Linked DNA regions of Homo sapiens. The protein of the gene in region 2 purifies or fractionates together with the protein of the main gene of each other region. This does not show direct contact. Each region holds a gene or a part of one and is shown on either strand. Other genes may lie near its edges.

What was found. The genes of interacting proteins can lie anywhere in the genome.
Region 1: the proteins of TLR1 (region 2) and TBC1D24 purify together in Homo sapiens (affinity purification with mass spectrometry, with the first as the bait; one large-scale study listed by BioGRID). This does not show direct contact.

Annotation. Positions count from the first base shown.
Region 1 is NC_000016.10:2,480,526-2,485,859, reverse strand, and holds part of TBC1D24 (TBC1 domain family member 24), read right to left. Parts: intron 2,842-5,334; exon of another isoform or gene 2,774-2,841; intron 1-2,773. UniProt on the Homo sapiens protein: May act as a GTPase-activating protein for Rab family protein(s). Involved in neuronal projections development, probably through a negative modulation of ARF6 function. Involved in the regulation of synaptic vesicle trafficking.
Region 2 is NC_000004.12:38,797,917-38,802,768, reverse strand, and holds part of TLR1 (toll-like receptor 1 precursor), read left to right. Parts: intron 1-1,820; 5' UTR 1,821-1,912; intron 1,913-3,870; 5' UTR 3,871-3,937; coding exon 3,938-4,852. UniProt on the Homo sapiens protein: Participates in the innate immune response to microbial agents. Specifically recognizes diacylated and triacylated lipopeptides. Cooperates with TLR2 to mediate the innate immune response to bacterial lipoproteins or lipopeptides.

The DNA.
Region 1 (5,334 bases), on a different chromosome or scaffold from region 2:
TGGACTCTTTGGAAAAACTCTCATACCACGTTTTCCTCTGCTCTGACGCCAGCACCGCAATCGGCACAGGATCTGCGACCCAGAAGATGCGGGGGTTTCTCCCGGCAGCAAGCAATCCATTCTGCAGCGGGCGCCCGCAGGGTGTCCTCCAATTCAATCCCGACACCGGGAGACATCTACCTGGAGATAGCTCAGATCCCACAAGCCCCCCACGTCTCCAGACACCAGTCAGAAGTCCAGGCCTCTGGAACTTCTCAGCAACCAACTTCAAGTTGGGGTTCCCACAACCCCTGCTTTGGGTTCAATGAATTTGCTGGAGCAGCTCACAGAACTCAGGGAAACACTTACATTCACTAGTTTATTATAAAGGTTGTTACAAAGGACACAGATGAAGAGACCTTTAGGGTGAGGTACGGGAGAGGGACACGGTGCTGCCCTCCAGGCACTCCCTCCTATTCAGCTGTCCAGAAGCTCTCCAAGTCCTGTCTTCTAGGGTTGACATGGAGCCCTTGTTAAGTAGGCATAACTGATTACCCCACTGGCAATCAACTTGACCTTCCACCTCTGGACCTCTCCCCTCCCCGCGGTTGGGGGTGGGGCTGAAAGTTCTAACCCGCTAATCCTGCCTTGGTCTTTCCAGTGACCAGCGCCACCCGGAAGCTATCAGTCAACACCAGCGCACAGAAAGAGCACCACGGAGATTCTGAGGATTTCAGGAGTTGTATGTCACTAAACAAGGACAAAGACCAAATAGATATTTCACAACATCACAGAGGTGCTGGGAGAGTAGGTGGAGGGAGGCTGGAAGAACACACTAGATGGGGCAGGGACTGGGGCCTAAAAGCAGACCTGGAGCGGGGTGTGGATGGCAGGCATGAGGGGAGAGGTGGCCCCAGCATTCAGCCCCAGGGAGGGGATGACGCCTCCTCCGGCTGGGGGACCTTCCTTGCAAGTCCACGCCAAGTCTGATTTCTTCATGAGGGGCCCAGGCCTCCCACCTACGTGCTGGGAAAGGCCAGGGAACACCTCATCCTGTCCTCCAAGAGTCTGCTGGATGCCTCAGAGACACAAATAAATCCCAGGCAGAGGCCCAAAGTGCAGACACTCCTCCTGCCATATAGCCCCACCGCCCTAGGCCTCAGCCCTGGAACAATGGAGCTGGCACAGTGGACCACGACGGAAGAGAGCCACTGGACTTGTCTGTGCACTCAGGTGTACCCGTTCTTTCTGGAACCTTCTCCTGAGTGCCTCCTAGGTGCCTGGCACTGAGCTAGGAAGAGCTGAGAGAGAAATCGGTCACCTGACAGTGAGGTCAGAAAGTGGCTTTGTAGACATGTGTAGAAGCAGAGAGGCCCCGGGGTGGTCGCATGCCCCAGGGAGCTGGATGGGTTCCGGAAGCCCTTCTAGAAGGCGGTTACAGCGTGCTGGGGTTGGCAGGGCAGACTGGGCGTTGGGGTGGCAGGGGGAGGATCTGCACTCAGCAGCAGGGAAATACAAGACTTGCTCTAAGCAGTGGGGGTGGGGAACTGGGTAACAAGGCCTGCTCACCACTCCATCCCGATAGTGACAGGGCACCACCAGAGTACTGGGGTGGAGAGGTGAGATCAAGCTTTTATTCCAGAAAGATCTGTGGTGTGGCAGCCTGGAGGGCATGTGCAGAGGCCACAGCCATCAGAAACATCCACTGGGGGTGGTGAGGTGGGGAGGGGAGGACGGGAGGCTGAGAGGAGAATGACCACCAGGGGTCTGCTGCATGTAGGGTGGCCACCCCCTGGTCCTCCCATGCAGAATGTCAGGGGTGGGAGATGCCTGCACAGGCACATTTTGAGAATGCTCCTCTGGCGATCCCATTCCCCTGACCTGTGCCCCCACTGCCTGGTGAGACCCTCAGCTATAGGACCATGTCTGACCGGGGCTGGATGGTGACAGTGTCACTAACCACGGTGAGCACAGCCGCTGGTCTTCCCCCACACCTCCTTACCTTGCTATCTGCCTTTTACCCCCGGCCCCTGCTCCCAGCCTGCCTTCTTGCTCTGGAAATTGTCTACAGCAAACACACCACTCCCAAGTCTTCATCCTCTCCCGAACGTACCCTTCCTCCTCTGGGCCGAGCAGCAGCCGGGCTCTCCCCATCACCACCCGCCTCCTCTCTCTCCAGCTCAGGGCCTTCCTCTCTGTGCTGCCCTCCCTTGAGGGCCAAGTTCACCGTCCTGGCTGGAAAGCTCCGTGGCCTCTAGAACTTTAAAAGCCTTTACATCTCTACCTTTTTATCCAGTCCCCGGGCATTCCAGAAAACCACTCTACCCACTCCAGAGGCTGCACATTCATACACCTGCCCATACCCTCTCCTAGAGCCCTCAGCGCCCTCCTCCCACTCGGAGCTGTGACTCCCCGCATCCACCAGCCACTCTGGCTTTTCTCTCTTGCCAGCTCAGCCTGGACCGTCTTGCCAAGCCCCAACTCCCGCCCGCCAACCCCACGCTCCTGTCTCAGCCATATGGATAAACTGCACGAGGAAGTGAGCCCGAGGCACGAGAACGGCCGAGGGGAGAGGGAGAAGTCCTGCCGCCTGCTCAGCGGTTTCCAGTGGCCCAGCCCCCGGTGCCACCTGGCATCCTTCGCAGCACTCCTCACCGACACCCTCTCCTCTCCAGCTCACAGCTGCCCCGTCCCACCCACTCTACCCCAAGAAAGGGGGCTTGTCAGGCGTGAGCTTCCCAGCTCTCTGCATTCCCACCACAGACCAAGGCCCCCCCTCAGTCCTGGCTCTCACCTCCTGGGGATCCCAGCTCCCCATCTCTCTCCAAGGCTCCCAGTGCTGTGACAGCAGGCCCCAAACACAGCAAACCACAGGGCCTGAGGCTCCACTCCAGCTCCACCTCTTCTCCGTTTTCCTTCTGAGCCAAGTGGCTGGCAAGAGCAGATGACACCCAGCTTCCGGCCCTCCCGCCGCTGGCCGCGCTGGCCGCCAGATCTCCCAGCTGCCTTGGGCCTCATCCCGCCTGCCTCCCTGCCAGGCATCCCCTCACCTCTCCGCGGCTGCTCCTCCACCGCCCGTGCCTGTCTCTCCAATGGAGCCCACCCTCTCCTGAGCCTAGAATCCTTCTTTGAGGTCCAGACCTGTCCCTCCAGCTGCTTCCCAGGTGTCTCCGGTACAGTCACAACATTCACACTCCATGTGACTCCAGCGCAATTCAGCTCCCACTCCCAGCCTCCTGCCCACTCAGGGCTTCACCCGGTCACCGTTCTCCACCCGAAACCCTCTCCTGGTGTCCCCCGCCCTTCAGGACCCAGCCCCTCCCTGCCCCTCGGACAACAGCTTCCGGAGCCCTGGCCACACAGTGCCAACTGCAGTCCCCACACTACACTGTGGGAATGTCACTGTTCAGAGTGGCAGGAGACACCTGTCCCCTTTCGCTTTCTGCTCAGTCCAATCGCCCCTCCTTCACAGGCCTCCATGGGACCTCTGGGGCAGGGCCAAGGCGTCACAGAGCTCCACGCCTCCTGTCCACATCTGTCCTCACCCTTGCCCAGCACACCCACCATCGTGGTGCTGGCTTATCCACCCAGCCCTGCTACCACACCGTGACTTCTGCACCCAAGCGTCTCACACTATGTCCAGTGTACCCTGGGAAGGAGGGAACAGAGAAGAAAACAGGCAGAGACTCAGAGAAATCGCAAACCACTTGGGCCCAAGACAAATTTAATTTTGAAGGCCAAATAACAACAGGGAGCATTACTAGTCCACCCACCCTAGGTGTGACCTTTCCTGCAGGCATCTTCACATAACAGGAAGGTAAGGGGTGCCTGCCTCAGCCTGAAGCAGAGCACAGGCATCTTTCAAATATTAATGGTGACCGACATGCCACAGTGACTACCAAGTAGCTGCTGACTGGGGAACTTGATAGTGGGCTCTTTGCCGGAGGCACACAATGGAGGGCACATGCCAGGTACAGAAGGGGTATGACCATTAATGAGGTGTTAGTCACCACACCATGGGCCGGTTGGCCCGCCTGCCTGTGATGGTTGGAAGTGCAAACGTGCCTAACTGTGGCTGCTGAGCCTGCTGCTCGGAGCCTGAGCAGGGGCAGGCTGAGCCTCAACCTTGGCCAGCCACCCTTTCATAGCCAGACATCTTTCTTTCCCCAGCCTAGTCCGGTCCACCCAAAGGCAGGGGCTGGAGCTGGCACAGGACTCTGCTAATTCAGGATCTTTATCATCTGAGCCCAAAGGTTCTCCCCACAGCAGGTCTGGAAAAACACCCCCAGGACACAGGAGGAGAACCAGAGGAAGAGAGCTCAGCTGTCAGCAGCACAGGCATTTTGATTGGTCTGAGTTCCAAGCCAGTGACAGGTGTGCCTTGGAAGGCCAGGCACACATCAGGTTCTCAGCAAGTGTCTTTAGACCTAAGGAGAGATCCAGCTCGAGGTGGAGTTGTGCATGTTTAATCATTTTATTTTTATTTACTTTTTATGTCTGGTAGAGACAAAGTCTCACTATGCTGCCCAGGCTGGTCTCAAACTCCTGGCCTCAAGCAATCTTCCCACCTTGCCTTCTCAAAGTGTTGGGATTACAAGCGTGAGCCACCACGCCCGGTCCTAATCATTTTAATAGGCATTCAAGACATGCTTCCCGAATGCCAGTGTGCCAGGTACCTGAGTGCAGAGGAGTACAGAGGCATGGCCCCACCCCAGCCCGGGTCAGGTGTACTGACGATGCCAATTCAAGGTGCAGGTGCTGTGACACGGTGCTTTCCCAGCGCCAAGGCCTGCCTCGGCTGGATCTTGCAGTGTGAGGAAGCCTTAGCCTCAGAAGGGATAGAGACAGCGTGGTCAAAGGACAGGGCCCCAGAGGGCAAGTCTGGTCAGAGCTACCCAGCTCCATGAGAACGTGGGCCGGTGAGTGTCCTTTGGGGCTCTGACTAAGACACTTCTACGCTTCAGCATAACAGGCACCAAGAAGCCAAAGGGCCCAAAACAGAGGCCTGGGATTTACTAGGCTGCCAGGAAAGGACAGTGCCCCTGAGTGCTGGGAACATGGAGAGGACAGCCCAGGAAGCCGCCAGAGCAGAAAAGTTAATGTCCACACCTCGATCCTAAGGCCACAGGTTTACCAAGGTAGCAAGGCTAGAAGGACCCTTGCCGGGAAAGGGATCACAGAGGGTAATTAGGGAAGGGGTGGAAATGATTCAAGGAAAGGCTGAAGGGACCATGTGATGAGCTCCATTTACCATGCCACAGTGAGTGGAAGGGCTTTTACTGGAAACCGAATGGCCCACCAGTAAACAACCTCTCTCGGTGTGTGGCACCCAATTAAAATTATGTAACAATCAGG
Region 2 (4,852 bases):
GTCACTCTGGATGTTTACCTTGGCCTATCCTTGACCAAAGCACAGCCATATTCCTTACAGAGAGTTTATTAAGAAGTTTTAGATCAGGAACGAAAGGAAATAAAGTACACTTGGAGGAGGGCCAAGTGGGCAACTTGAGAGATCCAAGTGCCCAGTTTAACCTATTACTTGGGGCTTATTTGTTGGCAGGCTTCTGGAGTCTTGCGTCTCTTCTCCCCTGATTCTTCCCTTGGGGTGGGCTGTCTGCATGTGCAGTGGCCTGCCAGCCCTTGGGATGGGCTGCACACACACTGTGTTTACTGAAGTTGTGTACATGCTCATTGGAGACATTTTTCCCTTGCCAGACAAGTCTTCCTAGAGGAAGGTCACATACCCGTTGAAGTCCGCCATTTTGCCTCTTGGTATGCATGCTCAAGCCTGCTTGCCCAGCTCCTGAGAGTTTGTCAGGAGTCTGCTAACCACCAGCTTCAGGTGTGTTTTCTATCTATTAGGAGACTGACTTTCCCTGATGCTGGCTGCAAACAATTATTATTCTAGAGAGACTGTTTTTTTGTTTTTGTTTGTTTGTTTTTGAGACAGAGTCTAGCCCTGTTGCCCAGGCTGGAGTGCAATGGCATGATCTTGGCTCACTGCAACCTCTGCCTCCTGGGTTCAAGCAATTCTCCTGCCTCAGCTTCCCCAGTAGCTGGGATTACAGGCACCTGCCATCACGCCCGGCTAATTTTTGTATTTTTAGTAGAGACAGGGTTTCACCATGCTGGCCAGACTAGTCTCAAACTCCCGACCTCAAGTGATCCACCTATCTCAGCCTCCCGAAGTGCTGGAATTACAGGCGTGAGCCATGGCCCCCGGCTTAGAGAGACTGTTTAACAACTGCCTGATCATCACCTGATGGTCACCTGATATTCCTGGTTGGGGGGCCCCTCTCCTGTCCTGCTCATGTCTGCCTAAGTACCTACTCTAACACTTGGGGGCAGGCAGTTATATAAATTTATATATTTTTGTGATGATAGCTGTTGTTAAGGGAAAAAGGACAACTTTCATCTTGCGTGTGGTAGGTTCTGCGAGCCAAGCTCTCGCACTCATGCACGGGGTCCTGTGTGCCTCTGATCACTTTTGAATACCACGCCTGACTGTGCTGATCACTGCTTCCATGAACTCTGGAGTTGGCTAGGAGGTGGAAAGAGCCTTGATCTGGATTCAGGCATAGGAATAAGCAGGGAACCCCACTTAGGCCTTAAGACCAGGCCACTTTTGCTTCGACCTAGCTTGGCACTGCCCCAGGGTATTATTTTTATTCCCATTATTTTAGTCTGTTTAAATTGCTGTAACAAAGTACCAGAATGGGTGACTTATAAACAACAGACACTTACTTTTCACAGTTCTGGAAGGTAGAAGTCTAAGATCAGGGTGGTAGTGTTGGGTTCTGGCGAAGGCCCTCTTCTGGTTTGCGGATGCCTCCTTCTTGTATTTTCATATGGCAGAATGACAGCCTGAGGCTCTCTGGGGTCTTTTTTATAAAGGTACTAATCTGACTCATAAAGGCTCTATTCTTATGACCTAATTACTTCACAATTTTCTCCTGCTAATACCATCACCTTGGGGGTTAGGATTTCAACATAAGAATTTCACAGGGCACAAACATTCAAGCTATAACATCCATTGAAATATTGCTCCTTGTGTGAGTAGCTCTTTAAGGAAGCTGGAGAGGAAGAATTGGGAAATTTCCGGGTCTTTCAGCCAAATACAGTTAATGTCATAAAAACACCACCTTGACTTTTAACATGAACATTAATGTCTGCATCATCTTCCTTGCTCAGGGTCTTCATGAACACTAATAGGGGTACCAGGCCCTCTTCCTCGTTAGAAGAAATCAGGATAACAAAGGCATATTGGGCACCCCTACAAAAGGGTAAGTCCAAGGAAGGCTCCAAAACCCAGATAAGTTTGCACATCTAAATTGGGGAACTTTTGTAACCGAGGGTTGTTTGTAGCAGCTAAATTATTTAGGTTCTCTGTGCTCATTGAGATATGGGAGGGGATATGTGAAGAGGAATTTGGTGCTTTGCTGATACTAATGCCCTGCTTGTCTAATGGTTCTAGGGGATTTTGAATAAGTTCCTTGTGAGAACTGGGTAGCTGTGTAATCACGGCTGAAAGGGTCTCTGGAGGTGAGGACTGCACACTCTAGAGTTCATCCCAACACAGCTCCCTCTGTTCTCATACGCCACTGGAATGCTGACCACAAAATGGTGTCTTAGCTAGAGCAGTTTGAATACTGGTACAATAGGCATAACCTAGAACAGTGCCTACCACTGCATGGAGAATAAATACATATTTGATGAATGAATGAAAAAAGTATTCTGAATAAGAGAGAGGAGGAAACAACTCCCTTTCTCAAAACCTCCCAGTGTTCTCCACCCTCTCATCATTTTTGGAATAGAATCCCAACTCCTTGCAATGATCAACAAAGCCTGAGTGATCTTGGCCCTAACTCCTCTCATCTTCCCTAACTCCTTACTAACATTGACCTTCCCGTTCCTTCTCAGACAAGCCAAGCTCAATTCCATCTCAGGTCCTTTATACTTGCCTTTTCTTTTGCCAGAAATGCTGTAGGTTACCCAGATCTTCCCATAGGTTACTCATTCACTTCATTTTGATTTCTACTCTAGTGTCATCATCTCAAAAAGGCCTTCTCTAACTAATCACTCAAAAATAGCCACCCCCAAGCACTGTCTCATACCTACAATTTACCCTGCTTTATTTTTCTCTACAGAACTTATCACTACAGGAACTTGAGTTTAGTCATTCATTTATTTTCTGTCTCCCCACTAGATAAAAACTCCTTGAGAATTCGGACTTTATCTTGTTCACTGCTCTATCTCCAGTTCTTAAAACATGGCCAGTAGGTGATCAATAAATACTGGTTGAATAAATAAATGGATGAATAAATGGATCTTCTGAGAGGCCTTTTATCAGGATCTAATTACCTTTTGAGTAAGACCAAAGTTAGACCCAAACCGTGTATAGGTCATAAAGGGTAATAGAAGAGCAGTCCCAATACCACCATTAGGAACACCTCTTGAGAAAGTCATGGGGAGATGTACGTCAAAGAGTGAAAGTACACCAGTTGAGTCTTAGCTGGAGTTCTAAATAATTTTGGGAAGCTTGGGGCCAGAAAACTTTCTATGAACCCACCTGTATTAGTTTCCTGAGGCTGCTGTAACAGATGATCATAAACGTGGTGGCTTTGCCCTCAACGTTCTGGAGAGCAGAAGTCGAAACTCAAGGTGTCAGCAGGGCCACCATCACTCCAGAGCCTCCTCTAGCTTCTGGCGCCTGTTGATGTTCCTTGCCTTGTAGCTGCTGCACTCCAGTCTCTGCCTCCACTGTCACAAGGCCTTCTCCTCTGTGTCTCAATTGCCTCTTCTCTTGTCTCTTTGTCAAATATCCCTCTGCCTTTCTCTTAAAAAAGCACTTGTCATTGGATTTATGGACCACCTGGATAATTTGGGATGATCTCCTCATCTCAAGATCCTTAACTTTATTATCTCTGCAAAGACCCCTTTTCTAAGGAAGGTAACATTCATGGTTTCTGGGGATTAGGACATGGTTAAGATGTAGACATATCTTTTGGTGAGCCACCATTCAACCTATTACACCATCCATATTAAAACTTATTTGATTAGAGCTGGCATCATTATTTACCAATATATATACTTCTCTAGTTTTAGGCCATGTAACCCAAAAGAATGTAGCCTCCACTTTATAAGTCTGTAACAAAAAAAAGTTTAATGTCAGCCATGACTAATTTCGTGTATTTTAAAAATGTATGTAATGTATTTCATCATTTCATTATTTTTTTTCTAGAATCTGTATCTGTATCAAGATGATCTGAAGAACAGCTTCTACCTTTAGGAATGTCTAGTGTTCCAAAATGACTAGCATCTTCCATTTTGCCATTATCTTCATGTTAATACTTCAGATCAGAATACAATTATCTGAAGAAAGTGAATTTTTAGTTGATAGGTCAAAAAACGGTCTCATCCACGTTCCTAAAGACCTATCCCAGAAAACAACAATCTTAAATATATCGCAAAATTATATATCTGAGCTTTGGACTTCTGACATCTTATCACTGTCAAAACTGAGGATTTTGATAATTTCTCATAATAGAATCCAGTATCTTGATATCAGTGTTTTCAAATTCAACCAGGAATTGGAATACTTGGATTTGTCCCACAACAAGTTGGTGAAGATTTCTTGCCACCCTACTGTGAACCTCAAGCACTTGGACCTGTCATTTAATGCATTTGATGCCCTGCCTATATGCAAAGAGTTTGGCAATATGTCTCAACTAAAATTTCTGGGGTTGAGCACCACACACTTAGAAAAATCTAGTGTGCTGCCAATTGCTCATTTGAATATCAGCAAGGTCTTGCTGGTCTTAGGAGAGACTTATGGGGAAAAAGAAGACCCTGAGGGCCTTCAAGACTTTAACACTGAGAGTCTGCACATTGTGTTCCCCACAAACAAAGAATTCCATTTTATTTTGGATGTGTCAGTCAAGACTGTAGCAAATCTGGAACTATCTAATATCAAATGTGTGCTAGAAGATAACAAATGTTCTTACTTCCTAAGTATTCTGGCGAAACTTCAAACAAATCCAAAGTTATCAAATCTTACCTTAAACAACATTGAAACAACTTGGAATTCTTTCATTAGGATCCTCCAGCTGGTTTGGCATACAACTGTATGGTATTTCTCAATTTCAAACGTGAAGCTACAGGGTCAGCTGGACTTCAGAGATTTTGATTATTCTGGCACTTCCTTGAAGGCCTTGTCTATACAC